Regions from separate parts of the Homo sapiens genome. Here all the other regions are linked to region 1. The links come from fine-mapping of genetic effects on gene expression. A gene starts in region 1. Each other region holds a variant in brackets. All regions are shown on one strand. Distances are between the middles of the regions.

Region 1 (9,786 bases):
CAGTATCTCTCCTAGTTTTAAACCGTGGGGCCATACAGAACAAATCTAATTCTATTTTATAGAGCCAGATTTAATGGCTCAATTCCCTTCCTTGATCAAACAATGTATAGCTAACCTAATCCTGTGGTTCTCACCCTTTTCCCTACTCCTGACACATCCAAGGGATACCCAGACTCCCACCAGTAATCATGGCTGGCCAAGACAGGGATAGGAACAGGCCTGGCCTGTCCCCCCAAATTATCTGGATCTTCCTGGGACACAGTGTTAGGAAACCGTCCAGATGACCCTACTTTTCTCAGATACTGCCTTACAGTATTATAACTATTCATGTACAAGTGAGAGCCTTGTCTTCCAAGGAGGTATCCTTGTGGTCCGATTTGCCAAAAGCAGCTGCACCTCTGCCCCAGGAAGATCCCATAGGAAAGGGTGAAGGGCTGCTACAGGGCCTTCAACCCAGGCACCTCCTCCATAATGAAACTTGGGCTTTGGAGTTTCCATGTGATGCCATCAAGGGCTTTTTCAGCTCAAATATATGTCTTTCATGATTCAGGATGGCAATAAGAAACTTTGAGCTGGCTGTAGCTACTTACACAATCTCATTTTATCCTGAGAGTGGCCTGCATCTCAGTCACCTCTGTGTCCTTAGCATTTAGCATGATGCCTGGAATACAGTTCTGCTTCTCATTTTGTTTGATGAACAACCCTGAGTCCATTAGAGATGACTCCTTTGGCTCCTGGTTTTAAATTTATTTTCTGTACGTTTATTTATTTATTTATTTATTTATTTATTTTTGAGACAGGGTCTCACTCTGTTACCCAGGTTAGTGCAGTGGCACGATCTTGGCTCACTGTGACCTCTGCCTCCCAGGCTCAAGTGATCCTCCCATCTCAGCCTCCCACTGAATAGCTGGAACCACAGGCACACACTCCTCACTTTCTAAGCTCCAGTCCTAAGTCATATCATTCTCATTGCCATACCTCAAAAGCACCCAAGTCTCAGGCACCTGGACTTTCTACCTAGAAGGTCCACCCCAGTTTGTTTACTGTCCTGATGAACATTCAGCTAAGCCACCATGTCCCCCCAGGATCTCCTGCCTCTGGACAGCCTGTGCTCCCCACTTTCTTAGGCACTGTGCTAGAACTGTTCTACCCCTGACTCTCCAGTTCCTGCCATAGAGGCTGACAAGTCATCAGTGTTCCCGAGGTTGGAATAAATGAATCACAATCTATCTCATGGCTTCGTAGGTCCACCAGAAGAAAGGTTATATGTGGCCGGGCACAGTGGCTCACACCTGTACTCCCAGCACTTTGGGAGGCCAAGGCAGGGGATCACCTGAGGTCAGGAGTTTGAGACTAGCCTGGCCAACATGGTGAAACCCCTTCTCTACTAAAAATACAAAAAATTAGCCAGGCATGGTGGCTCGCACCTGTAATCCCAGCTACTCAGGAGGCTGAGGCAGGAGAATCGCTTGAACTCAGGAGGCAGAGGTTGCAGTGAGGAGAGATTGCACCATTGCACTCCAGCCTAGGCAAAAAGAGCAAAGCTCCGTCTCAAAAAAAAAAAAAAAAGAAGGTTATCTCTGACATGCTGGAAGTACAGCAAAGGCCTTGATCTGTGATGGACATCATGAAGAAAACTTTTCTTTGGTTATCATACCAGTAATGCTGACTTCCTGGGAAGGGAAATACTAATTAAGTGGGTATTAATTCTGTCCTAGACACTTTTAGGGCTCTCTATGTAAGTCTTATTTTACAGATAATGACATCAAAGCTCAGAGGTTAAGTGACTTGCCTAAGGTCATTCATTAAGTCAGAGGCAGAGCCAGGATTTAGAACCCAGGGAGTCACACTCTGCCTGCACTCTTTTTTATATATATTTTTTTTTTCCCAAGACAGAGTCTTGCTCTGTCGCCCAGGTTGGAGTGCAATGGTGCGATCTCGGCTCACTGCAACCTCCACTTCCCGGGTTCAAGCAATTCTCCCTGCCTCAGCCTCCCGAGTAGCTGGGATTACAGGCGTCCACCACTGTGCCCAGCTAAATTTTGTATTTTTAGTAGAGACGGGGTTTCACCACGTTGGCCAGGCTGGTCTCAAACTCCTGACCTCAGGTGATCCGCCTGCCTTGGCCTCCCAAAGTGCTGGGATTATAGGCATGAGCCACCGTGCCTGGCCCTTTTTCCTTTGAGACAGAGCCTCGCTCTGTCACCCAGGCTGGAGTGCGGTGGCGTGATCTCCGCTCACTGCAAGCTCCGCCTCCCTGGTTTACACCGTTCTCCTGCCTCAGCCTACCAAGTAGCTGGGACTACAGACGCCCGCCACCACGTCTGGCTAATTTTTTGTATTTTCAGTAGAGACAGGGTTTCACCATGTTAGCCAGGATGGTCTCGATCCCCTGACCTCATGATCTGCCCGCCTTGGCCTCCCAAAGTACTGGGATTACAGGCGTGAGCCACTGCGCCTGGCCCTTTTTTCCTATTTATATAGAGACGGGGCCTTGCCATGTTGTCCGGGCTGGAGTGCAGTGGCATGATCCTGGGTTCCAGCGATCCTCCCACCTCAGCCTCCCAAGTAGCTAGAACCATAGGTGCATGCCACAATGCCACGCTAATTTTTGTATTTTTTTTAGAGACAGGGTCCTCTATGTTGCCCAGGCAGGTCTCACACTCCTGGGCTCAAGTGATCCACCCATCTCAGCCTCCCAAAGTGTTGGGATTACAGGCATGAGCCACCTCACCCAGCTATATTTCTGCATAACTCCATAAGGCAGAACCGGGCCAGCTTTTCACAAACCAAAATTGTTTCAAAGTGGAAAGCTCTCGGCTGGGCGCAGTGGCTCATGCCTGTAATCCCAGCACTTTGGGAGGCCGAGGCAGGCGGATTGCCTGAGCTCAGGAGTTGGAGACCAGCCTGGGCAACATGGTGAAACCCCGTCTCTACTAAAATACAAAAAATTAGCTGGGCATGGCGGTGTGTGCCTGTAATCCCAGCTACTCGGGAGGTTGAGGCAGGAGAACTGCTGGAATCCAGGAGGCAGAGGTTGCAGTGAGCCGAGATAGTGCCACTGCACTCCAGCCTGGGCAACAGAGTGCGACTCCATCTCAAAAAAAAAAAAAAAACAGTAATTCAGGCCAGGTGCAGTGTCTCACACCTGTAATCTCAGCACTTTGGGAGAGCGAGGTGGGCGGATCACCTGAGGTCAGGAGTTCGAGACCAGCCTGGCCAACGTGGTGAAACCCTGTCTCTACTAAAAGTACAAAAATTAGCTGGGCGTGGTGGCAGGCACCTGTAATCCCAGCTACTTGGGAGGCTGAGGCAGGAGAATCGCTTAAACCTGGAAGGCAGAGGTTGCAATGAGTCGAGATTGTGCCACTGCACTCCAACTTGGGTGACAGTGAGATTCCGTCTCAAAAAAAAAAAAAAAAAAAAAAAAGCCTGGGCGTGGTGGCTCACACCTGTAATTCCAGCACTTTGGGAGGCCAAGGCAGGTGGATTACCTGAGGTCAGGAGTTTAAGACCAGCCTGGCCAACGTGGTGAAACCCCATCTCTACTGTAAGTACAAAAATTAGCCAGGCATGGGGGTGCGCACCTGTAGTCCCAGCTACCGGGGAGGCTGAGGTGGCAGGATCACTTGAATCCAGGAGGCAGAGGTTGCAGCAAGCCGAGATTGCGCCATTGCACTCCAGCGTAGGCGACAGAGCGAGACAGTCTCAAAAATAATAATAAATAAAAATAACACACAAAATATCTTTTTATCTTTTATTTTATTATTGTAATCCCAAAGTGCTGGGATTACAGGCATGAGCCACCACGCCCAGCCTACTTTTTATTTTTTTTGAGACAGAGTCCCACTTTGTCACCCAGGCTGGAGTGCAGTGGCAGAATCTTGGCTTACTGCAACCTCCGCCTCCCAGGTTCAAAAGATTCTCGCGTCTCAGCCTCCCAAGTAGCTGGGATTATAGGCGCCCACCACTAAGCCCAGCTAATTTTTTTGTATTTTCAGTAGAGACGGGGTTTCGCCACGTTGGCCAGGCTGGTCTCGAACTCCTGACCTCAGGTGATCCACCCACCTCGGCTTCCCAAAGTGCTGGGATTACTGGCATAAGCCCCAGCGCCTGGCCTGGCTTTATTATTCTTCTTCTTACCTCTGACCCCCCCCTTCCCTGCAGCTGCAAATAGGGCAATCGCGTTGAACAGCAGTCTTAGACCCCGGAGAGTTGAGTGTGGTGACAGCTCTCAGACTGAGTGGGCATCTTTGACTGCCTTCCAAAGTCAAATATAAATGACTGAGGATTATCTGCTGCTTTGGATCATAATTACTTATGCTTATGCCATTGATATAAAAACAGAGTTGAGTTGGCCGGGCGCGGTGGCTCACGCCTGTAATCCCAGCACTTTGGGAGGCCGAGGCGGGCAGATCACGAGGTCAGGAGATCGAGCCCACCCTGGCTAACACGGTGAAACCCCGTCTCTACTAAAAATACAAAAAATTAGCCGGGTGAGGTGGCGGGCACCTGTAGTCCCAGCTACTTGGGAGGCTGAGGTAGGAGAATGGCGTGAACCCGGGAGGCAGAGCTTGCAGTGAGCCAAAATCGCGCCACTGCAATCCAGCCTGGGCGACAGAGCAAGAGAGCGAGACTCCGTCTCAGAAAAAAAAAAGAAAGAAAGAGTTGACTATATTTAGTTCTGTGTTTTATTTGTGTTTTCTTTCCCTGAGTCAGATGGGAACTGTTTCTTCCCGCCCTGCCATTCTTCCCATGTTGAGATCTTTCCCAAAGGCAAAGATCATTTCCCTTTTTGGCCATGGAGCACTCTGATGGTAAGAATTAGTCCTCTCATCACCCACCACACTCAACCCGAATAGGAAATTTCCAAGAATGGGAACCATGTCTTTGGGCACTTAGGCGAGATTACTCAATCAAAAGAGTGAGACTCAGGGACTGAAACATTCAATCAAGGTTAAAAACAGATTAAAATGTGGCAGTTACCTTTTTTCCCCTGATATAGAATACGCACTGGAGTCACAGTTACCTTTTAGTAACTGATTTCCTTGAGTGAATAGTGTATCAGAAAATGGGACTTTTATGGTGGCAAAGAATTCAGAGGGCCTGGGGCACACAGATCTGGATTTGTATACCGATTTGCCACTTAACCAGCTATGTGACTGTGCAATTTACCAACCTCTCAGGGCCACATTTTTTCATCTGTCAAAAAGGTCAATATGGCCAGGTACGGTGGCTCACACCTCTAATCCCAGCACTTTGGGAGGCCGAAATGGGCAGATCACGAGGTCAGGAGTTCGAGACCAGCCTGACCAACATGGTGAAACCCCGTCTCTACTAAAAATACAAAAATTAGCCAGGTGTGGTGGCGTGCGCCTTTAATCCCAGCTACTCAGGAGGCCGAGGCAAGAGAATCGCTTGAACCCAGGAGGCGAAGGTTGCAGTGAGCCGAGATCGCACCACTGCACTCCAGCCTGGGAGTCAGAGAGAGACTCCGTCTCAAAACAAAACAAAACAAAACAAAGGTTGAATAATAATAATAGGACCTATATTGTAGACTTGTTGAGAGGATTAAATGAGATAATGTACGAAATGCCTTACTACAGAGTCTGGCACTTATTAAAGAAAGAGTTGATGTGGGCTGGGTGCCGTGGCTCACGTCTGTAATCCCAGCACTTTGCGGGGTTGGGGTAGGAAGATCCTTAGAGGCCAGGAGTTCGAGACCAGCCTGGGCAACAAGGCGAGACCCTCGTCTCTACAAAAAATATATAAATTATCCGGGTGTGGTGGCTCATGCCTATAGTCCTAGGTACTTGGGAGGCTGAGGTGGGAGGATACCTTGATTGCAGTGAGCTGTGATCTTGAGCCATTGCGCTCCAGCCTGGGCGACAGAAGGCGGCCGTATTTAAAAAAGAAAAAAGAAAGAAAGAAAGAAAAGAAAAGAAAAAAAGGGTCGTTGTGGAAAATTCTTGTGGGGAATTAAAGGGACCACGTGTGCGCGAAAGAGCTTGGCGAAGATAAGTACCTGGAGGCCAAGATGAGGCGGCGAGCCCTGCCTCCCTAGCAGTGTGGTCTCCTGGCTTAGGGTCAGTGCTTCGCACAAAAAAATCCACTGCCTCTCATGAGACCTTGAACTGCCAATGACCGCAGGTTGCCCAGACTCCCGAGTGAGGAAGGCGGCCAGGAGTCAACTAGGCTTCTTGCGGAAAAGCCCACTCTAAGAAGGCCTGGGGCATTCCGGCTCCAGGCAGGTAGCACCCGCGGGCCTCAGGCCCTTTCACTTACCCGGGAAACGTAACGGTCCTTAACGGCAGCCAATAACGGCTCCCAGCGGCCCAGGCACTGGCAAGGGCAGGCTGAAATCAAACCTCGGATTTTGGAACCTCCACGCCTGAAACCCTAAACCAGCATCGAACTACAACTCCCATCATGCCAGGCGGCCGCCCGGTTCCCAAGGGTCGGTCCCACCAACCTTGCGCCCCTTCTTTCCTCAAAGCGTGGCCGAATGCCTAGGCTTCCGGGTATCAGTGGCCCCGCCTCTTAATCCGACCGGAGCCGTCCCTCGTGATTCCTGGGTATTGTAGTCAGTTTCCTGGGAAAGAGTCGCTCCTAGTGGCAGCTCGCTTCGCCAGAAAAACTACAAAACCCAGAATGCAGCGCAAATTCCCCTTGTCCAATAGGAACCCCCCATGTAGTGGGGCGCGGAGCCCTGCTCTCGCAACTCAAGATGGCGGACGAGAGTGAGACAGCAGTGAAGCCGCCGGCACCTCCGCTGCCGCAGATGATGGAAGGGAACGGGAACGGCCATGAGCACTGCAGCGATTGCGAGAATGAGGAGGACAACAGCTACAACCGGGGGTAACGAAATCCTCGGAGTCCAATTCCCGTCCAGCCTCCCACAACCTGGGTCTCTGGGGTGCGGGGAAGTCACCGGGAGCTTAGTCTAGCCCCACCCTCATGTTCTTATTGGCTAAGTCACTAGGATTCTGCCTGGCGATTGGTTATTGCCTTTGTCATTTACCAAGGGTGGGTGCTCTGGATATTAAGGGCCGGAGACGTTCAGTACTTTTATTATATAAAAGTTCTATGCAGTGTTCCACTCGTGTGCTTCAGGCCATTCCTGGGAAAAGAGCATGTTGGACGATGGTTTTCGATGGTACAACACAGGACAGTCTAGTAACAGTACAGTTCAAAGGGAACGTTACTTATAGACGTGTTGTTTGAACAACGTGACTAGCAATAAACGAATCATAAAACATTTCGCAGCAGTTCACCCTCAGTGAGGAAACTCATCAGACTATACAAACTGTATGTATAATTATATTGTAAAATATCACTACCAGAGAATCCCAAAATATAAACTCACCTTATAAACCTATGTAATTAACGGTATGGTAATGCTTTGATTTACATAGTTTCCATTGCTCCAAATAATCCATAAGTATCCTGAACGATATATTAATATAATTAAGTCTTCGAACATCTTTGCCTTGTTACCTTTGCAGAGCAGCCCCAGGCTTCAAGAAATGAGCGATGTTGTTTCTTGGAGAGTATTTGGAATCCTCGGGCTCCATACTGCCTATCCTGTACTTTAGGGTCTTGCCATTAGTTACTATTTGTTCCTAGGGATGAAGAAACACACCAGGCATTTGAATGTTGAATTCTTTTCCCAAATTAGTTTTTACTTCTGTAAGCCACAGCTTATTCATCTTTCTTCACATGGTTAGTGCCTGGCACTGGCACTCACGCTGTCTCTCCCCATCTTCCTGTCTATATTTGTAGATATATTTTTAAACTGAAAGTCGTGAGAGATTTTTGGGTGTATAACTTGCTGAGTCTGAGGTAGTCTGATTTTCGTAGCCAGCTTGTTATTCGCAGTATTGGTGGCAGTGCAGATATAAAGGTATAAAGACCAAGGACTGCGTAGAAGAGATGGTCCCACAAGATTATAGTACATATTTTTATTGTATCCTTTCTATGTTTAGGTATGCTTAGATACACAAATACTTACCATTGTATTATAGTTGCCTGCAGTACTCAGTAACATGCAGCAGCCTATTGCTCCTAGGCTACAAACCTGTATAGCATGTTACTGTAATGTACACCATATAGCCTAGGCATTTAGTAGGCTATACCATCTAGATTTGTGTAAGTACACCCTATAATGTTGGCAAGGCAAAAATCACCTAACCATGCATTTCCCAGCACATATGCCTGACGTTCAGTGAAGCATGACTGTATTTAAGTGGTTTATAATCTGCTTGTGGTAAATCTTAGGTTAAAAGATCTAGCTTTTATGTTCTTCAGCCGGCATTAAAAATCACAGGAAGGGCCGGGCATGGTGGCTCATGCCTGTAATCCCAGTACTTTGGGAGGCAGATCACGAGGTCAGGAGATCGAGACCATCCTGGCTAACACTGTGAAATCCCATCTCTACTAAAAATACAAAAAATTTAGCCGGGCGTGGTGGCGGGCGCCTGTAGTCCCAACTACTCGGGAGGCTAAGGCAGGAGAATGGCGTGAACCCAGGAGGCAGAGCTTGCAGTGAGCTGAGATCACGCCACTGCACTCCAGCCTGGGCGACAGAGCGAGACTCCGACTCAAAAAAAAAAAAAAAAAAAAAAAATCACAGGAAGAAAGTAGAGGAATAGGAAGCTTGCCAAATTTAGTTTTTATAAGACTGTTCTGTTGCTGTAACTCACAACAGATCTAATGTAATAAAAGTCTTCTTTTGAAGTTTGATATTCCTAAAAATGGAAGAGCTGAGAAAGAGGAAGTAGGAACAGGAAGAAGGGAAAGTGAAGCTCTCCTGAGTAGAGATCTGAATCACAGATGAGAGTTGGTGAATGTGAAAGTCATTCCAGAAGTGAAAGTGTGGCATTTTCTTTGCTCTTTTTGTAGTTGCTTTTATTTTTATCTTCTTAACTGTTGTCCTGACCAGTGTCCTTAGGTTTGTGCCCTATAATCTGTGAATCACTTTTCAAAACTGTGTGCCAGAAAGTTATTTTATTGGCCTGGCGTGGTAGCTCACACCTGTAATCCCAGCACTTTGGGAGGCCGAGGCAGGTGGATCACTTGAGGTCAGCAGTTCGAGAACAGCATGGCCAACATGGTGAAACCCCGTCTCCACTAAAAATACAAAATTTAGCTGGGCATGGTGGCGTACGCCTATAGTCCCAGCTACTCCGGAGACTGAGGCAGGAGAATCACTTGAACCTGGGAGGTGGAGGCTGCAGTGAGTTGAGATTGCACCACTGCACTCCAGCCTGGGCAATAGAGCAAAGCCCTGTCTCAGAAAAAAAAGTGGCACACAGTGGCTCATGCCTGTAATCCCATCACTCTGGGAGGCCGAGGCGGGTGGATCACGAGGTCAAGAGATTGAGACCATCCTGGCTAACATGGTGAAACCCTGTCTCTATTAAAAATAGAAAAATTAGCTGGGCATGGTGGTGCATACCTGTAGTCCCAGCTACTCGGGAGGCTGAGGCAGGAGAATCACTCGAACCCGGGAGGCGGAGGTTGCAGTGAGCTGAGATTGCGCCACTGCACACCAGCTTGGCAACGGAGCGAGACTCCATCTCAAAAAAATAAATAAATAAAATTATTTTATTTGTAGTAGAAGTAAGTGATAACCTTAAAAACTTTGACAGTTTGCAGTGGTGTCTCTGTGCATGGTTATGGTCTGGGTGAAAAAATTATGTTTATTAGCGTCCCAAATCTAAAGATCTGTGAAAATGAGTTTGGAGGTAGTAGGTGAAAAACCAAGGGCCTAGTCTGGAGGAGAGA
Region 2 (9,786 bases), 31 kb after region 1:
AAGTGGGAGAATCCCTTCAGCCCATGAGGTTGAAGCCGCAGTAAGCCATGATTGTGCCACTGCACTCCAGCCTGGGCAACAGAGCGAGACCCTGTCTCAAAAAAAAAAGAAATTCACTGCAACATTGTTGTATTACTAAAGAACAAAATCACCAAAATGCCCATGAGTAGGGGGCTGGCTAAATATACTGTGGTCCATACATACAGTGGACTTGGTAGAATGGGTAGGTCCAGGTGTTTTCACCTGGAAAGGTCTCTAAGACAGTCTTTAAAGAGCAGTTTGTACGATAATATTATATGATCCAATTTTAGTTTTTGAAAAGTGTGTGTGCATTTGGAACTTGTATGCAAAAAAGTCTGGAATTATATTTGCCTCTTCTCACCTTCCCAAGTGAAGACTATTGATCACAAAGATTATATTTGGGGGATGGGATTGTGGGTGTTTACTTTCTATGTGTCTTACACATTTCTGCATTGTTTGAAATTTACATTGAGCATGTATTACTTTTGCCATCAAACAACATAAGACTAATAAGGGGAGAAACCCTGCGGGCAGCACCCACCCATCATATAGCTCATTGTCAACCACTTTTTCTCTGGTTGTAATGACCTCTGGGATTAGGACAGAGGAACCAAACCCCTTCTTTGAATTGTACCCTTTAACTCTTTTTTTTTTTTTCTTTTTTGAGATGGATTCTTGCTCTGTCACCCAGGCTGGAGTGCAGTGGTGTGATCTTAGCTTACTGCAACATCTGCCTCCCAGGTTCAAGCAATTCTCGTGTCTCAGCCTCCTGAGTAGCTGGGATTACAGGGACACGCCGCCATGCCTGGCTAATTTTTTGTATTTTAGTAGAGACAGGGTTTCACCATGTTGCCCAGGCTGGTCTTGAACTCCTGAGCTCAGGCAATCCACCTCCCTCGGCCTCCCAAAGTGCTGGGATTACAGGCATGAGCCACTGCGCCCAGCACTCTTTTTTTTTTTTTTTTTGAGACGGAGTCTAGCTTTGTCGCCCAGGCTGGAGTGCAATGGCGCCATCTCGGTTCACTGCATCCTCTGCCTCCCAGGTTCAAGTGATTCTCCTGCCTCAGCCTCCCAAAATAGCTAGGATTACAGGTGCCCGCCACCACGCCTGGCTAATTTTTGTATTTTTAGTAGAGACAGGGTTTCACCATGTTGGTCAGGTGGGTCTCGAACTCCTAACCTCAAGTGATCTGCCCGCCTTGGCCTCCCAAAATGTTGGGATTACAGGCATGAGCCACTGCACCCAGCTCCCCTTAACTCTTGAACTCATAATTAATCAAAAGTCTTACTAACATAATGGGCCTTTTTTCTCCCCAACTTTGTCTTGTCCAGATGAACTCTTTGCCAGCAGAGAGGATCCAGGAAATACAGAAGGCCATTGAGCTGTTCTCAGTGGGTCAGGGACCTGCCAAAACCATGGAGGAGGCTAGCAAGCGAAGCTACCAGTTCTGGGATACGCAGCCCGTCCCCAAGCTGGGTATGTACATGCTTGCTTTCTTTGCCAGGTCAGGGGCGAGGGATCTGCCTCAGCTGTGCCTTCATGAGGGTTTCATGCTGAATTACTGTAGGGAGGGCAGTAGAGTCCTGGAGTTCCTTGGTAGTTGTTTTCAGAGGGTGGTTTTTAAAAATGCAGCATAAAGACTATCATTCAGAGACCTTACCATTTTATAGCAGCACACCTTGAGAACAAATAATGATTCTTGCCAACAGCACTGGCTCACACCTATAATCTCAGCACTTTGGGAGGCCGAGGTGGGAGGATTGTTTGAGCCCAAAAGTTCGAGACCAGCCTGGGCAACATAGACCTTGTTTCCACAAAAAGTAAAAAAAAAAAAAATAGCCAGGCATAGTGACATGCACCTGTAGTCCCAGCTACTCAGGAGGCTGAGGTGGGAAGATCACTTGAACCTGGGAGGTCAAGGCGGCAGTGAGCTGAGATCACGCCACCGCACTCCAGCCTATGTGACAGGAGTGAGACCCCCAACTCAAAAAACGAACAAACCAAAAAACCCAAAAAAAAAACAAAACAAAACTATTGGCACATGAAGAGTGGGAATGTCTGCCCAGAGGTCTTTTTTCCACTTAGGTTTATAGAGACTTTGTCTTGTTTGTCTGGGCACATGTTTATTCCTGGAATGGGCAAAGTCCCCAGCCTCTTCCCCTTTGTCTCCTAGCCAATGCATGCTTACTAAATGCAAAGTGGTTTGAGATTTTGCTTAGCAGTGATGGTTCAACAACAGGAATACTATATATAGATTTCATTAGCACCCCTTAAAAAAGCTATAATGAATTGCTAAAGGGGTGGAATAGGCAGAATATCTAAAAGGATTCTGGAAGGGACTGGATCCTGTTAGACGTGCCTGCCAAGACTGAGCCAAGCCAACCTTGATGGCTGACTTCAGGACTCAGCTGACAAAGTTTCTGAAGTGGTTGTAACATGATTCTGGACCCATTGGTGGCCTAGTTCCTGTTTTCTTTGTGACTGGGAAAGTAAGTATGTTGAAAAAAACATATTCCAACACCAAATGTAAATGACTTTCAGCTTGTCCACATTACTGCTCCCCTCCAGAAACACAATGAGACTTCACTAGTATGTTCGGTGCAGAGGAGGAGGGTGGGGCAGGGCCAGACAGGGTAGGGCTAAAGACTGGTGAGGTGAGGAAGGCAGCTGTGCCCAAGGAGATTTGTTTGCTGCAGAGGTTGGGAGCAGCTAATCCATGAGGCCTGCAGACCTGCAGGATGGGCATTGCCTAATTGCTAGTAGAAATGCAGTTTGTCGGGCCCCACCCCAAAGCTGCAGAATCAGAACTGCCAGAGGATTTCTGTCCACTTTGAAAGTTTGAGAAGCTCTGCTCTAGAGCGGATGCAGTTCTTAGAAGCTTGGTCACAATAGAAGCAAGCTGAGGAGGTGCATCCCCACGGGTGAGGGAGAGCAGAGCACTGCCCAGGTGGACAAGAGGGGTGCTGATTCCCCCATCACCGTGTGTGTTTGGCTGCCCTCATCGGCCAGGTCCCAGGCCCACTGGCTAAGCCCTCCAGCAAGGCTTTGGGCCACAGGGTAGGGTCCCAGTGACCAGTTTCTCGCTGAGGAGCAGGAAAGATGCAGAGAGCCACACATCTCACCTCTGAATGAAATCCCTGATGAGGTGTTGTGTGGTGGCTGCCATGTATCTTGGCTCTGTTTTCAGATGGCATTTTGGAGTTTTGGTTTGATTTTATTTTTCCTGAGGAATTTGCAAATGAGTAACCTTGCTACATTCTTCACAGATAGTGGCACTTGGGAAAGAGGCAGATTGAGGCTGGGCGCAGTGGCTCACGCCTGTAATCCCAGCACTTTGGGAGGTCGAGGCAGGCGGATGACCTGAGGTCAGGAGTTCGAGACCAGCCTGGCCAACATGGTAAAACCTCGTCTCTACTAAAAATACAAAAACTAGCTGGGCTGGTGGCATGGGCCTGTGATCCCAGCTACTTGAGAGTCTGAGGTGGGAGAATCACTTGAACCTAGGAGACAGAGGTTGCAGTAAGCTGAGATCGCACCACTGCACTCCAGCCTGGGCAGCAGAGCAAGAATGCATCTCAAAAATGAATTTAAAAAAAAAAAAAAAGAGGCAGCTTGGGATTAATTTGCTTCTGTTCCTCTTCAGCCCAGCATACTTTGTTTTCCTTTCACCTGTAAATGTAGAAAGTGCTTCAGTTTAGTTCTCAGAAAGCTCAAGAGAAAACCACACAGTTGCTCATACGGGCCCTGACACTTTGAGGAAGGAGGAACAAGGTCTGGTTTTATTTCTTCTGGCTTTGCCTTCTGTGCAGTGTGTGGTGTCGGACTCCATGGAAGAGCAGTCACCCTGAGCATCTGACTAGTCTGCCTTTGAGGTCCAGGGTCAGTCAAGCCCCAGTTAGATTCCTGTGTTTGTGTCAGCCTGTAAAAAGTGCCACCTTGGCAGGCGTGTTAGCCTGCATGGCTGAGGCGTCACCCTAGTTCTGAGTTTTCTCAGGGGTGGTGGTACCTACAGCTTCTTGCCCTAATTTTTTTTTCACTTAATTGGAGGACTAATGATTATAAATCTCGTGCATATCAGCTGCACTGTGTTTTTACAGTACTCTCCACCTTCTTGGGAGAGTTTTAATTAGATGGTATTCCACTAAAGAAACCTACAAGTCTCTCTGATTTATTTATTTATTTATGAGACAGAGTCTCACTCTGTCGCCCAGGCTGGAGTGCAGTGGCGTTTTCTCGGCTCACTGCAACCTCTGCCTCCCAGGTTCAAGCAGTTCTCTGCCTCAGCCTCCCGAGTAGTTGGGATTACAGGTGCCCACCACCACGCCCGGCTAATTTTTGTATTTTTAGTAGAGACAGGGTTTCACCATCTTGGCCAGGCTGGTCTTGAACTCCTGACCTCGTGATCCACGTGCCTTGGCCTCCCAAAGTGCTAGGATTACAGGCATGAGCTACCGCACCCGGCCCTCTCTTTTATTTTCTTGAGACAGGATCTCGCTCTGCTGCCCAGGCTGGAGTGCAGTGGTATGATCATGGCTCACTGCAGCCTTGATCTCCTGGGCTCAAGCAATCCTCCCACCTTAGCCTCCTGAGTAGCTGGGACTACAGGTGCCTG[C/T]CACATGCCTGGCTAATTTTTAAATTTTTTGTGGAGACATGGTTTCACTATGTTGACCAGGCTGGTCTCAAACTCCTAGGCTCAAGCTGTCCTCCTGTCTTAGCCTCCCAAAGTGCTGGGATTATAGGCGTGAGCCACTGCACCTGACTGAGACCTGCAATTCTTTAGAAGCTTAAAATTATCCTAGGTTTACCATGGAAAGGCCTTCTTAGGCCGGGTGTAGTGGCTCAATGCCTGTAATCCCAGCACTTTGGGAGGCCAAGGCAGGAGGATTGCTTGAGCCCAGCAGCTCAAGACCAGCCTGGACAACAGGGAAAGACCTCGTCTCTACAAAAAAATTTAAAAATTAGCCAGACATGGTAGCACATGCCTATGGTCCCAGTTTCTCAGGAGACTGAGGTGGGAGGATCGTTTGAGTCCTGGAGGTCGAGGCTGTAGTGAGCCATGATCGTGCCACTGCACTCTAGCCTGGGTGACAAAGCGAGTCCCTGTCTCAAAGATTAAAAAATAAATAAATAAAAATGAAAGGCCTTCTTAGCAGAAGTGTTTTAGTCTGTGTAACAACTGTAAGAGCCGCAGATGAACTTTTGATCCCCCACTCGAGATCATGTCGTTCTTCTTTTTAAAGTCACCCCTTTCCCACTCATGTCAACGGAAGCAGTATCCTTTTCTGTCTTTGGTCAGTGGAATGCAGTGTGGCCACTCTGTTTTAAAAAGTCACTATCAAAGGGAGGATGTGCACTCACCTGGTTTCCATGGGTCCCAGAGAGAAGCTTCCCCTCTCTTTTTCCTCTCCTTGGCCTTTGTTTGGTTTAATGTTTTCCGCATCTCAGACATTCTCATTTCTCCGAAGTCCTTCACAGTTGCACCGCATTGCTTAGTTTTGGGTCTCTGATGTTTGATGTCATGGAGAGAATTTTGAGGGAAGAGTGTGCAGAAAGAAACCCATTGAAAGCTCAGGGTTTTCTTTAAACTTCCAGATTCTTTTAAAGCAAGTTCGAAGTGTCATCCTTAGTCATTTATTGGTTCATGTTGGCCTTGAGAGAATCAGCTGCATTCTTGCTGTGCTCTGCAGAGCAGCCTTCCACCCCTGCTCAGCAGGAGGTACTCAAAGGCCATTGTAAGGGAGAAGGCAGGCTGCTCCCCACAGAGCAGGACAAGCAGAGGCCATGATGCTGGCACCACACCGAGGACAGCACAGGAGCCTTGGGCTGCTTCTTGGCATCGAGGGCACTCCACAGTGGGAGTCTAGTAAAAGTGGCTGCTCCCTTTTCAGTGTTTCCTGTAGCTCTACTTTTTCACACCCACCCTGCCCCACATAGTCCACCTGCAGCCTGGCTGATTCCTAATTATCCTTGAGGTCTTGTCGTTAGATATTTCCTCTGAGAGGTCTTTCCTGACACACACACACACACACACACACACACACACACACACACACACACACACGTCCCATAGCACCCTGTACTTCATTCTTACTGGCCCTCACCATGCCGGGTGGCATGTGCATCCTTGCTCATCTCTTTGGTGTCCATGATGGTGAGGACCTGTGTCTGTTTCATTCGCCAGCCCCTGCCACAGAACTGGCACATTCTAGGATTCAGTGAACACTTGGTGAAGGAGTGAGTGAATGGAAGTGCCTGTTGCGTGTAGGACCTAGTAGCCAGCCTAAATGAGAAGATTTAGCCTTGAGGTTATTTTAGTACAATAGGGAAGACCATCAGTATTCTTGGCCATGGAAATAATTCAGGGGGAAAAAAAGAAGGTTCTGAAGTGTATAGGAAAAGGTATAAATTCAATACAAGTTGGGAAATTAGCACCTAGATAAGACTAGAGGGTCTGGCCCTCAGTTTTGTAGGCTCAAAAATGTTTTTTTAATATACATAGCTGTCAGTTGGAAGCGGATTGACTTAAATTCACAAGAGCTACTTTATGAATAATCAAATGGTGGGTTTTGGCTGGGCGCCGTGGCTCATGCTATAATCCCAGCATTTTGGGAGGCCAAGGCAGGAGGATCACTTGAGTCTAGGAGTTTGAGACCAGCCTGGGCAACAGTGAGACCTCATCTCTATGAAAAATAAAATTAGCCAGGCGTAGTGGCGCATGCCTATAGTCCCAACCACTCGAGAGGCTGAGATGGGAGGATCGTTTGGGCCTAGGAGGTCGAGGCTGTAGTGAACCAAGGTTACGCCACTGCATTCCAGCCTGGGCAACAGAGCAAGACCCCATCTCGCCAGTCATGAGTTTCCTAACTAGGGAAGAAAAATATGACCTCTCTCCCAAGCAAACCTGTTGGGAAGCCTGATTACCAACAGAGCAGGCTGCTTCCCTGTTGTGTGTCCCTGCACTTTCCAGATCCTGACCTGCAGCACGTGGATAATGACTCATTTATTTACTATTTCCCCAGAAGATGGTATGTCTCATGAGGACAGGGACTTGGTCCTTTTTCCTGCTGTACACTAGGGGCTGGCATGGTCACTGAGTCACTGGTGCACGGTTGGTGCTCAGTAATGTGTCTGATGGAAGAGGGTGAGATGATCAGTGCCAGCGGTGGTGTCGTGTGCTGCAGCCTGATGCAGCCCTTTCCACCACACTTGCCCCACAGATTATCATTCTGGGAAGGTCTAGAGCTTCCTGTTACATGTTAGAATGAAATGTTTGGACTTTGGGAGGCCGAGGCGGGTGGATCACTTGAGGCCAGGGGTTTGAAACCAGCCTGGCCAACATGGTGAAACTCCATCTCTACTGAAAAAAAAAAAACAAAACACCAAAATTAGCCAGCGTGGTGGCGGACACCTGTAATTCCAGCCACTCGGGAGTCTGAGGCAGGAGAATTGCTTGAACCAGGGAGGTGAAGGTTGCAGTGAGCCAAGATCGCACCACTGTACTCCAACCTGGGCGACAGAATGAGACTGTCTCAAAAAAAAAAAAAAGAAAAGAAAAGAAAAAAAAAATATTTGGGATCAGGAGTCTGAAAGTCAGTAAAAGCATGAATTGAGTGCCTAGTCTATACAGAGCCCTTTGCTAGGAACACTGTTACTGGGTTGGTCCCTTTTGAAGACTCCATTTTCCAAAATGCACTAAACATTGCATTCTTCCCAGTGTAAACATGAGTGAGCCCATTGTAGAACCGAAATCATCCCAAGGGCCAGAATTCAGTGGTGAATCTCTCAGCATATATGAGTCCGATTGAGCTCTGGATAGGAATGAGGGCTGTGTCTTTGGAGCACTCCCCACATGCTCCCACAGAGGAGGGGCCTATCCTGCTCAGGGAGGGGATGTTGTGTCAGGGTGACTTCCCGGCAGCACTATGTAGACTTGGTGATTCAGCCCAAAGGCACTTGCAGGACTCTAAACACTGAGGGCCTGAGTTGGCAGTAGCAGTTAACTGGCTCACGCTGCTGAAAGCCAAGGCTGGCAGGGCCACGATTGAGCCTGGCGCCTAGAAGCCATCATCTGGTTCAGAAATGGGCCCAGTACATTGTTGTTGCTGTTGACACAAAAGCAGCCTTGTTGTGACTCCTTACAAACCCATCCAGACTGATGGGCCTGGGCCAGGGCCCTGACAGCACTCTTTACACCAACCAGGAGGCAGGAAGCCAAATTACTAAAGATAAATGTTTGTCATTCAGTGACCCAAGGGAGATTTAAATGGATTTCCAAAACACGAACCACCTTGGATCCCAGTGATTGTCCTGAGGTTTTGCCATGAATTGGCCCTCAGTTAGGGGCTAAGGGTAGCTGGAAAGACGGTTTGCAGTTGCCAAGCACAGAATGTTCTTCAGATAGAGGGCTCCTAGGGACAGGAGGAATTTGCTCTGGTTGAGTTTTGAACTGAGCCCTTTACTGCCCCGAGGGGGCAAAGGGTGAGGCTCACAGCTGTGCTCTTCTTTCAGGCGAAGTGGTGAACACCCATGGCCCCGTGGAGCCTGACAAGGACAATATCCGCCAGGAGCCCTACACCCTGCCCCAGGGCTTCACCTGGGATGCTTTGGACCTGGGCGATCGTGGTGTGGTGAGTGGGCCCTCAGAAGGTTACACCTGCGGGTAGGAGCCACTTTCACAGTAAGCCCTGCAGTCTCACCTAGACTACGTTTACTCGAGCCCTAGAGAGCTGAGCCAAGGAGGTCTGAACAGACTCCCGTCTGTAACTTCCTGGGGCATGGCCAAGACTCCACATAAATAGCTCTTAGCTTTTCTGGCAGGTTGGAAGTTAACCTCTGTAGGTCCCCGATGTGGATACCTGTTTTTCATTTATTCTTTTTTGTTCATTCATTTCCTCATTTTCTTTCTAGTCTGTCTCCTGACTGGAGCAGCTGGGGCTGCTAAATGAGGCCCTGTCCTCCCCTTTCCACCCCGGCCACCCAGAGCCCCTTGTTTTGACCTGAGGGATTTATTTCCCTTATAAAGAATGATGAAAATGTCGCCGGGCGTGGTGGCTCACACCTGTAATCCCACCGTTTTGGGAGGCTGAGGCAGGCGGATCATGAGGTCAGGAGTTTGAGACCAGTCTGACCAACATAATAAAACCCCATTTCTACTAAAAATACAAAAAATTAGCCAGGTGTGGTGGTGTACGCCTGTATCCCAGCTACTCAGGAGGCTGAGGCAGGAGAATCTCGTGAACCTGGGAGGGGGATGTTGTAGTGAACTGAGATCTCACCATTGCACTCCAGCCCAGGTGACAGTGCGAGACTCTTTGTCTCAAAAAAAAAAAAAAGTCAACAGAATTTTTTTTTTTTTTGAGATGGAGTCTCGCTCTGTTGCCCAGGCTGGAGTGCAGTGACACCATCTCAGTTCACTGCAGTCTCTGCCTCCTGGGTTCAAGCGATTCTCCTGCCTCAGCCTCCCGAGTAGCTGGGATTACAGGTGAGTGCCACCACGCCCAGCTAATTTTTATATTTTTAGAAAAGATGGTGTTTCACCATGTTGGCCAGGCTGGTTTCGAACTCCTGACCTCAGGTGATCTGCCCATCTTGGCCTCCCAAAGTGCTGGGATTACAGGCAATGAGCCACTAGGCCTGGCTTTTTTTTTTTTTTTTGAGACAGAGTCTGGTTCTGTTGCCCAGGCTGGAGTGCAGTGGCGCGATCTTGGCTTACCCCAACCTCCACCTTCCAGGTTCAAGTGATTCTCCTGCCTCAGCCTCCCAGG
Region 3 (9,786 bases), 22 kb before region 1:
TGACAGGCAACCAGGCCTTCAACTCGGAGGCCCAGGCTGGAGGCCACATGTGCCAAAGGCTGGCATGCAAATCTCCAGCAGCCCTAGGCCAGCCTCTTGCCAGATCCCAAGCCACCGCCCTCTGTTCTCCCTCCCACTTCTGGTGACTGACCCCAACCTGTAAAGTAAGCATCAGGCCACCCCTGTGCAATGCTGTCCTGAAGAACATGGCTTAGGCCAGGTGTGGTGGCTCATGCCTGTAATCCCAGCACTTTGGGAGGACAAGGTGGGAGGATTGCTTGAGGCCAGGAGTTTGAGACCACTTTGGCCAGCATAGTGAGACCCCATCTCTAAAAATAAAATAAAATAAAATAAAATAAAAAAGAACAGGGCTTGAACCATGGCATATAGCTTGGAAGAAGGTTCTTGCCAACTGGCCCCAGGCCTCTGATTTCAAATACTCCCCTTCCCCTACCCACCCTGGCCATCTTGGTCCCTTCCCAATTTCCAGTCTACAAACTTGCTTTCCCAAATGGCTCAGCCAGAACCAAACCTGCCCCTGACTGCAGTTTACATGTGTGATTAACTGACAGTCACTGACCTGGACCCTCAGTCTTCCTAACATGCTCACGTTGGATTTTTTCTTTTTTTTGAGACGGAGTCTTGCTCTGTTGCCCAGACAGTCTGAGTATAGGGTGCAATCTCGGTTCACTGCAACCTCCACCTCCCAGGTTAAAGCGATTCTCCCGTCTCAGCCTCCCGAGTAGCTGGGATTACAGGTGCACACCACCATGCCCAGCTAATTTTTGTATTTTTAGTAGGGACGGGGTTTCACCATGTTGGCCAGGCTGGTCTCAAACTCCTGACCTCAAGTGATCTGCCTGCCTCGGCCTCCCAAAGTGCTGGGATTACAGGCATGAGCCACTGTGCCCAGCCTCATGTTGGATTATTATCCCCACTGCACAAATGAAAAAATGAGCTGAGGGCGAGATCACTCAATGAAGTCACACAGCTAGAAAGTCAGGGTTGGGATTTGAACTCAGATCTATGGCTCCATTATTCACCAGCTCTTATTACTCCCATCCCTACTAGAAAAACCAACTTACTTCCTGGGCTCATGGCTCGAAAGCCTCATGTGTCTCTTCTCATTAAACTGTCAGCCTCCTTAAGAGCTGAGGGAACGTGCTTCTTTCCTCTGGGGCTGGTACGGGGCTCTGTGTGGAGGGGATGCCAGTAAGCAGTATGAACTCATCAGCTGGGATAACCAGCTCCCCTACCCTGGCCAAACTTTCTGCAGAGGAGAAGGGCCCTGGCCCTGGAAGGAGGCCCCGCCCCCCGCCCCAGGCCCTGGCACTTACCCCGGAGGAAGTACTTGAACGTCTCCTTCATCATCTCCTTGCGAATCTCGGGGTGGGTGATGGCGTTGAGCAGCTGCCGCCGGTCAGGCTGGTTAAAGATCAGGTCCCCCAGGACCTTGCGATTTATGTCGCCGTTCTCCAGCAAGACCTCAGTGCCGAAGACCTCTACGATGCGCCGGTGGGCAGGGTATCCTGGCTGCACGACTGTGGCAGGAGGAAGAAGCTGGGTCACTCCCTGAAGCCTCAGGGCCAGTCAGAGGACCTCAGTGACCAGGGGCAAAATGATGGGGGAACTCGGGTGCTTCTTTCAGGTGGAGCAAAAGCAAAATGAGGGTAGAGAAAGCAGTGAAGGAAAAGAGCAGAGTGTACAGGATCCCTTGTGCTGGTAATGGGGTACAGCTGGGGGGTTTCTAAAAACAGAAAATAGAAGAGCAGAGAAGGCAAGCACGGGGCAGAGACAGAAGTCAGACCAGGGTCAACAGGAGCCTTCCCCTCCTCTGAGACTTATAAAAAAAGGAGGCATGGCAGAAGGCCGGAAGCGTGGGGAGCTGCTGTGCACGGCCCCCCAACCTGCCCCTCCAACTCACCGTGCCGGGCCATCACGTCCACGTCAATCACCGCACAGCCCAGCTGCTGGAACACCTGGATCACTGAGCTCTTGCCTGAGGCAATGCCCCCTGTCAGGCCCACCAGAAACATCTTCCAGGAAAGAGAGCTGTCCGCGAGACTACGGAGCCAGGAGCTACAGAATCACTGGAGAGCAGGGCAAGTGTGGCCGATGGGGGCGGTCCACCAGAGGAGTGCCAGAAGGACCTGCTTGGGAGAGGCCAGCGGGACTGATCAGTTTGGGCCAAAATAATTGGGAGAGAGGAGGCAAAGGAAGTAAAGGGAGACAGCTTGGCTGGGGAGGGACATGTCCTGAGCTTGGGGTGCTCTGGGGCCATCTGGAGAGGAGAAACCCTCCAGGAAAGGCCTCCAGTATTTTAAAAACACTCGCAAAGAAGGCAAATGTGGCCAGGAGTGGTGGCTCACACCTGTAATCCCAGCACTTTGGGAGGCCAAGGTGGGTGGATCACCTGAGGTCAGGAGTTTGAGACCAGCCTGGCCAACATGGTGGAACCCCATCTCTACTAAAAATACAAAAATTAGCTGGGCGTGGTGGCGTGCACCTAGAATTCCAGTTACTCAGAAGGCTGTGGCAGGAGGATCGCTTGAACCTGGGAGGTGGAGGTTGCGGTAAGCTGAGATCCCACCACTGCACTGCAGC[CG/C]TGGGTGACAGAACCAGATTCCTTCTAAAAAAAAAAAAAAAAAAAAAAGCAAACGAACACTATAAATTCAGCAATCAAAAGCTGAACAGGCAGGGCAAGGTCAGGTGCTGTTAGGCAGCATGCTTCCTGGACGAGGCAGGATCCCCTTGGAGGCCAACTTCCTAGAGGAAGGAGACACCTGTCTCTCTGTGGTAGACCCACAGCACTCTTCAGATGCCCACTGGTCCCCCTGGCCTTTACTTTCTAGTCTAGGAGACTGAGGCTCAAAGGAAAGAAATGGCCTGCCTGCAGCCATCCACGGAAGATGCAAAAGAGACCACAAATAGAGTCCAGGTGCCTGGGCCCTCTTTTGCCCCAAGGCCTCCTCCCCACAGAAGGTCCCATGGATCACTTCCCCTTGAACGCCAGCACTAGGACTGCCTGGGTAGCTGATATAGATGGAGACGCACAATCCTCTTGGCCCAGATGGGGAACTGAGCCGCAAGCAGTGGCTCGGCAGCCACTAAGGCCGAGGTTTAGAAAAGTACCACTCTTGCCAAGAAGGAATGTGAGGGAAAGGCCAGGAGGCTGGGCGATGCTGGTGGTGTGACTTTGAGCTGGCGTCGTGGTTTGTGGCGTCCTCAGACCAAGCAGCGGCAGCACGGCACAAAGGTTGGGGCATGGCTTCTTCACACCCAGCTCCTCCACTCACATGTGCTGCAACCCCGGGCAAGCCGCTTGCCTCCCTGAACCTCAGTTTTCTCATCCATAAAATGAGGTTTAGGATCATAAGACTGCCTTGGCTGGGCGTAGTGGCTCACGCCTGTAATCCCAGCACTTTGGGAGGCCGAGGCAGGCAGATCATGAGGTGAGGAGATCGAGACCATCCTGGCTAACATGGTAAAACCCCGTCTCTACTAAAAATACAAAAAATTAGCCAGGCCTGGTGGCGGGCGCCTGCAGTCCCAGCTACTCGGGAGGCTGAGGCAGGAGAATCGCTTGAACCCAGGAGGCGGAGGTTGCAGTGAGCGGAGATTGCGCCCCTGCACCCCAGCCTGGGTGACAGAGCGAGACTCCGTCTCAGAGAAAAAAAAAAAGAAAAAGAAAATGCATCTGCAGTCCATGGTATGTTGCTTGATAAATGGTAAATATCCCAAAAATGGAAGTGAGGATAGTGATACAGGGTGAAAAGTAGGAGTTACAGTTCCACTGCAAGGCATAGAAAGGAAAAAAAAAAAGACTTTCATGAAATCATGTCCCTATTCCTCCAACCTCAGACTATCACACCATAAACTTTTAAGGAGTCATGGTGCATTTTCTGGAGTAAATGAGGTTACCATGTCTTGGACTTTGTTCCCAGGCTGGAAGCAATTAAATCAAAGGCCAGGTCTCTCCCACCCTTCCTTCAGCCTCAAATCACTTCTCCAGGACTGTAAAATCTGCCATAGGACTTTTTTTGTTGCCGTTAAGCAGCAGATTTACTGTCCTAATTACACTTTGCTTGAGCTTACACTGAAATGAGTTTGCCTCCCGTGAGGACACACCAAATGACAGGGGAGGCAGCTGCTTGGATGTGGCTGAGTTGGTGCCTGGCTTGGGGCAGCAGGGGACCAACCTAGAAATTGAAATCTGCCACTGCTCATTCTCACCCCGGAAAGCCAGAGGTGGAGAGAGGAAACTATCCACCACGGAGTCATCATCCAAATGGAGAGACCTAGCTACATTAATCAACTATTTAACAATCATTTCTAGGCCACGCACGGTGTTCACGCCTGTAATCCCAGTGCTTTGGGAGGTTGAGGCAGGAGGATTGCTTGAGACCAGGAGTTCGAGGCCAGCCTGGGCAATACAGCAAGGCTCTCTCTCTATTAAAAAAAATAATAATTTCTCCTCCATCTCTCTGAGGCTGGTGATCTCCCTCTAGGTCACAAAAAGGACAGGGTTCAGTTGTAAAAACAAACAAACAAAACAAACAAACAAAATGTCAGCCACTCAGCTGAAGCTTTGAAATAGAAAATCTAGAAAGAATTTTTTTTTTTTTAGATGGAATTTCACTCTTGTCGTTGCCCAGGCTGGAGTGCAATGGCGCATCTCAGCTCACTGCAACCTCCGCCTCTCAGGTTCAAGCGATTCTCCTGCCTCAGACTCCCAAGTAGTTGGGATTACATGCAGCCGTCACCATGCCCAGCTAATTTTTGTATTTTTAGTAGACATGGGGTTTTGCCAGGTTGGCCATGGCTGGTCTCGAACTCCTGACCTCAGGTGATCCACCCACCTCAGCCTCCCAAAGTACTGGGATTACAGGCGTAAACCACCACGCCAAGCTTCAAGAGCTTTTTTTTTTTTTTTTTGAGACAGAGTCTCACTCTGTTGCCCAGGCTGGAGTGCAGTGGTGTGATCTCGGCTCACTGCAAGCTCTGCCTCCCGGGTTCACGCCATTCTCCTGCCTCAAACTCCCGAATAGCTGGGATTACAGGTGCCCACCACCATGCCTGGCTAATTTTTTTGTATTTTTAGTAGAGATGGGGTTTCACCATGTTGGTCAGGCTGGTCTCAAACTCCTGACTTCAGGTGATCCACCCACCTCGGCCTCCCAAAGTGCTGGGATTACAGGCGTGAGCCACCATGCCTGGCCTTTTTTTCTTTTCTTTTCTTTTCTTGAGACAAGAGTCTCTCTCTGTCCCCCAGGGTGGCGTGCAGCGGTGCAATCTGGGCCCACTGCAATCTCTGCCTCCTGGGTTCAAGAGATTGTCCTGCCTCAGCCTCCCGAGTAGCTAGGATTACAGGTATGCACCACCATGCCTGGCTGATTTTTTTGTATTTTTAGTAGAGACGAGGTTTCACCATGTTGGCCAGGCTGGCTCAAACTCCTGACCTCAGGTGATCTGCCCACCCAGGCAGTTCTGATGTGTAACAGCGCTCAGGATAAATTCTAACTCTTCTTTTACAGCAGTGGAGACTGAGGACCAGAGAAGGGAGGGGACTTCCCACCAGCAGCTATTATCAAAGGCTGGATGCAGTTCAGGGCTCCTAACCCCTAGTCTAGACCCCTGCCTTTAATGTACTCAAGGAATGAAAAATTAATTTACCTTTAGACTAATGAGACAAAGTAAGGAAGATGAATCTGTTTGTAGGCAAATCGATTCAGAGCCAAAGAGAAATAATTTCTTGATTATCATACTGTTTTCTTCCTGCAGAATGGGGGCTGAGGGGGTGTGTGGACAATGGCCAGAGCACAGATGGAAATTCCAGCCTCCCGGGTTACCTAATGAGTATCCTCCCTTCTCAGTGCCTTGACCGAGTGTCTGTGGAAACAGACCAACAGCTGCTTGGCCTCCATCAGGAAGGCCAAGCGGACAAAGGAGCACACGCCCAGGGAGGCTCCGGGTCCCCAACTTAAAAGGGCCTTGACAAATAACAGCTGTTCCTGTCCAACAAGCCCCTCTGTAGCTCATTCCTTCACTGACCATCCACTGAGCATCTCTGTGCTCTGCAGGAACGGTGCCAGGGACCTCTTGGGTAACCAGAGGAAAACACAAGTCTTGCCCCTTGGGAAAACTGGAGAGCTAGATAGTACCAGATGAAAACATCTGAGAACAGAGCGCTGACAGGTAAGCAGGAATGGTCAGGTGGTGCTGGCCCTGGGCCTGCTGTATGAGTGCCTTCCCACTCACTTGGCTGCGCACAGATCTACTGGGATCTGCCAGGGAGGAAGTTGCAGCCCACGGTGCTCCCAAAGCTCAGCAAGGAGGAAATAGAGGCTTAGGTACCCAGCGGCCTCCAAGTCACACCTAGACCTGCCAGCAGCTCCCTGTCAGGCCCACATGAACAAACGACCACCTTTGATCACCTGTGTTCATGACCCTCTTTCTGCTCTGGTCAAGTCATCATTCTCCAGAATCCGATCTGGCTTCCCACATTCCACTGCCGCTTACACAGAGGCAGTACATTCCTCACAGCAAGTGCTAAACCTGGCTATAATCTGAATTTACTGCGAAACTTACAAAAGGTACAGACACCCAGGCTCCATCTACCCCAGCCCACTGAATCTGAATCAGCTAGGCCCAGAACCATGGCTAAAATGAAAGGCTGTGGACTGGAAGTGGAAAGTCCTGGGTCCTGGTCTCTGAATTCTGTGATAAAACTACCCATGTGACTGCAGGAAGTCTTCTCTCCAGCCTGGCCCAGGGTGGTAAGGACTCCATACAAGAAACAGCTGAGCCCCGGGTGCCTTCCCTCCTCTGAGCCTCAGTCCCCACACTTGTGAGTGAGAGGGGCTGGAGTTTCAGTGCCAAGAACGGTGCAGCTCCCCAGGGAGGCTGAGAGTCACACTGGTGATTTCTTCCTCCCCTTCAGTGGTTCAGAGCTCTCCTGGGAGTGGTGAATAAATGCTCCCCTGGGGCCAGGCGCAGTGGCTGTAAGGCCAAGGTGGGCGGATCACTTGAGGCCAGGAGTTCGAGACCAGCCTGGCCAACATGGCGAAACCCCATCTCTACTAAAAATACAAAAATTAGCTGGGCGTGGTGGTGCATGCCTGTAATCCCACCTATTCGGAAGGCTGAGGCAGGAGAATTGCTTGAATCTGGGAAGCGGAGGTTGCAGTGAGCAGAGATCATGCCACTCTGGACTCCAGCTTGGGCAACAAAGTGAGACTCCATCTCAAAAAAAAAAAGGCCGGGTGTGGTGGCTCATGCCTGTAATCCCAGCACTTTGGGAGGCCAAGGCGGGAGGATCACCTGAGGTCAGGAGTTCGAGACCAGCCTGACCAACATGGAGAAACGCCATTTCTACTAAAAATACAAAATTAGCCAGGCATGGTGGCGCATGCCTGTAATCCCAGCTACTCGGGAGACTGAGGCAGGAGAATTGCTTGAACCCGGGAGGCGGAGGTTGCGGTGAGCCTAGATTGTGCCATTGCACTCCAGCCTGGGCAACAAGAGCAAGACTCCATCTCAAAAAAAAAAAAAAAAAAAAGCTCCCCTGGCAAACCAAGGGATGACATTACTGTTGGTGGCCTGGGAATCTTCCTCCTCAACACCAAAAGCTGTTCACAGAACTGGCTTGGCTGGAGGCGGAAGGACAACACCAAGTCCACAGTAACAGAGAAGGAGCCAATGCACTGTGCAGGAGAAATGGAAGCTGGATTCTGGGACCAATCCCAGGTATGGGATTCATCAGCCAAGGAGGAGCCAGAAAGAAAAGCAAGCCTCTGATCCCAGGGAAGCCACACCCCATCCTTTCTTTCCCTCATTCTCCATGTCAGTGAAAGGCAGCAGGGTGCAAAGAAAAGGGCAAGGAGTTTGGGTTAGAGCTGGTGCCTGCGCTCCAACTCTGCAGTGAAGCTCTAAGGCCTGTGAAATGACGATCAGATTCTATTGTGCTCCACAAGTGGTGGGCTCTTTTGCATCGGGTGTCTCCAAATTGCCTCTCAGTTTTTACTTCTTGGGCCCAGTAGCCCCAAGAAGAATAAATACATTCAGAGAATGGTCTGTCTTAGAATCTCCTCTGGCAGTGTTTCTCTTAGGGAAAAATTAATGGGCTAAATAAAGCCCTACTGCTCTGGGAGGTCTGGCCAAGTTCTAATCCCACTAGGCCCACTCTGTTAGCCTAAGCCACCAGCACCTGTGCCCTGACCACTCCAGTAGCCTCATGACCTGACCCCCTCGTCCCGGCCTGGCTTCTCCCCAAGGTAGCCAGGGTCATGGCTTAAAGGAGTCATCTGATCATGTCACTCCCATCTAAAACCTTCACTGCCTTCTCCCGCCTCCTCCTGGCCCTTCACAGAGGTCTCCAGGCCCTGTGTGACTCCCTCAGTCACTCCCTGTCCACGATGCCTGGTGCCTGTCACACTGATCTTCCTTCTGTCCCTGAACATGCGGGCTCTTTTTTTTTTTTTGAGACGGAGTCTGGCTCTGTCGCCCAGGCTGGAGTGCAGTGGTGCGATCTCGGCTCACTGCAACTCCGCCTCCCGGGTTCACGCCATTCTGCTGCCTCAGCCTCCCAAGCAGCTGAGGCTACAGGCGCCTGCCATCATGCCCGGCTAATTTTTTGTATTTTTAGTAGAGACGGGGTTTCACCATGTTAGCCAGGATGGTCTCAATCTCCTGACCTCGTGATCTGCCTGCCTCAGCCTCCCAAAGTGCTGGGATTACAGGCGTGAGCCACTGTGCCCAGCCACATGCGGGCTCTTTTCGACCCCAAAGCCTCTGTGCTGGTGTTCTCTCTGCCAGACTCACCTCAGGGCTAACTACTCTTCAGTCACCCTGTACTGACTGTGTCAACCAATCAGACACCAGGCACGAGAAGGGGTGGTGGGGGGAGCAGGGGAGGGGTAAAACAATAAACTCACAGTACCAGTAAGTGTGGTGGTGGTAAGTGGGTAAGGGTATCAAGAGCAATGGGGGGCCATGCATGGTGGCTCACGCCTGCAATCGCAGCACTTTGGGAGGCCAAGGTGGGAGGATCACTTGAGCCCAGGAGTTAGAGGCCAGCCTGGGCAACAAAGCGAGATCCTGTCTCTTAAAAAAAAAAAAATAGCTGGGCATGATGGCATATGTCTGTAGTCTCAGCTACTTGAGAGGCTGAGATGGGAGGACTGCTTGAGCCCAGGAGTTGGAGGCTGCAGTGAGCCATGACTGTACCACTGCACTCCAGCCTGGGTGCAGAATAAGACCTGACTTAAAAAAAAAAGAGTGACAGGCACATCATTGTCTGACCCAGGACCTGAAGCAGCATGGGAGCAAGTCACATCCCCTTGGAGGAGCCTCATCCAATCCCCCAACCCAAATGATGCCCCTGCCATCTCTCACCACTCCCTTTACTTTCCCTCCTTTGGACTCGTCATGCTTTGGACTTTCATTTCTGTTCATGTGACTTTTTTTTTCTTCTTTGAGACAGGGTCTCACTCTGTCACCTTCTTCCCTTGGGACAGCTCAGGACTTATGTTGGAGGCAAATTCTGTTCCTTCTCATCCCCCATTCAACAGACCCGCCCCTGCGTGTGCCAGGCCAGGACCTGGCTCCCTCGGCTTGCAGCCCCTGTCCTCCTCCCCTTGCCGCCTCTCAGGATTTCACACTGGGGCCGCCTGACTAGCCAGACAGAACTGCTTTCCTAAGGGGGTGTATCTGTTTTGCACCAATGATCAATATAATCATTCATGAAAACGAGTCATTTCCTGCCTTGGGACCCAATTATTTCTCGAG

Direction of the effects. Alleles are on the strand shown, and positions count from the first base shown. SD is a standard deviation of normalised expression in the study named.
For the expression in adrenal gland of the gene that starts at base 6,715 in region 1, C is the high allele of the variant in region 2 and T is the other (small effect, 0.28 SD a copy in GTEx).
For the expression in naive CD8 T cells of the gene that starts at base 6,715 in region 1, allele CG in region 3 goes with a higher level than allele C (small effect, 0.37 SD a copy in Schmiedel 2018).

The links. PIP is the estimated chance that this variant, and not a neighbour inherited with it, causes the effect. A credible set is the group of variants that fine-mapping cannot tell apart.
Region 2: its variant is the best candidate, but not a certain one, in a credible set for the expression of NMT1 in adrenal gland (GTEx, PIP 0.59).
Region 3: its variant is the best candidate, but not a certain one, in a credible set for the expression of NMT1 in naive CD8 T cells (Schmiedel 2018, PIP 0.77).

What each region holds. Positions count from the first base shown.
Region 1 is chr17:45,054,603-45,064,388 of GRCh38, forward strand. NMT1 (N-myristoyltransferase 1) reads left to right here and starts at 6,715. Exons shown (of 12, transcript NM_021079.5): 1 at 6,715-6,858. The coding sequence starts at 6,728. It also overlaps a transcript of DCAKD not described here. RefSeq lists enhancers at 5,495-6,486, 6,346-6,525, 6,487-7,478, 6,626-6,985, 6,839-7,133 and 1 more.
Region 2 is chr17:45,085,155-45,094,940 of GRCh38, forward strand. It overlaps NMT1 (N-myristoyltransferase 1), which reads left to right. Exons shown (of 12, transcript NM_021079.5): 3 at 1,354-1,498; 4 at 8,531-8,649. Among named protein-coding and RNA genes, the nearest start is that of MIR6784, 24 kb to the right of the region's middle. RefSeq lists an enhancer at 5,570-6,071. The variant C/T (reference allele first, on the strand shown) is at 4,635.
Region 3 is chr17:45,032,850-45,042,635 of GRCh38, forward strand. DCAKD (dephospho-CoA kinase domain containing) reads right to left here. Exons shown (of 5, transcript NM_001288655.2): 2 at 1,925-2,150; 3 at 1,338-1,541. The coding sequence starts at 2,036. Among named protein-coding and RNA genes, the nearest start is that of DCAKD, 14 kb to the right of the region's middle. RefSeq lists enhancers at 2,695-3,195, 3,196-3,696, 7,206-7,840, 7,841-8,475, 8,476-9,110. The variant CG/C (reference allele first, on the strand shown) is at 2,605.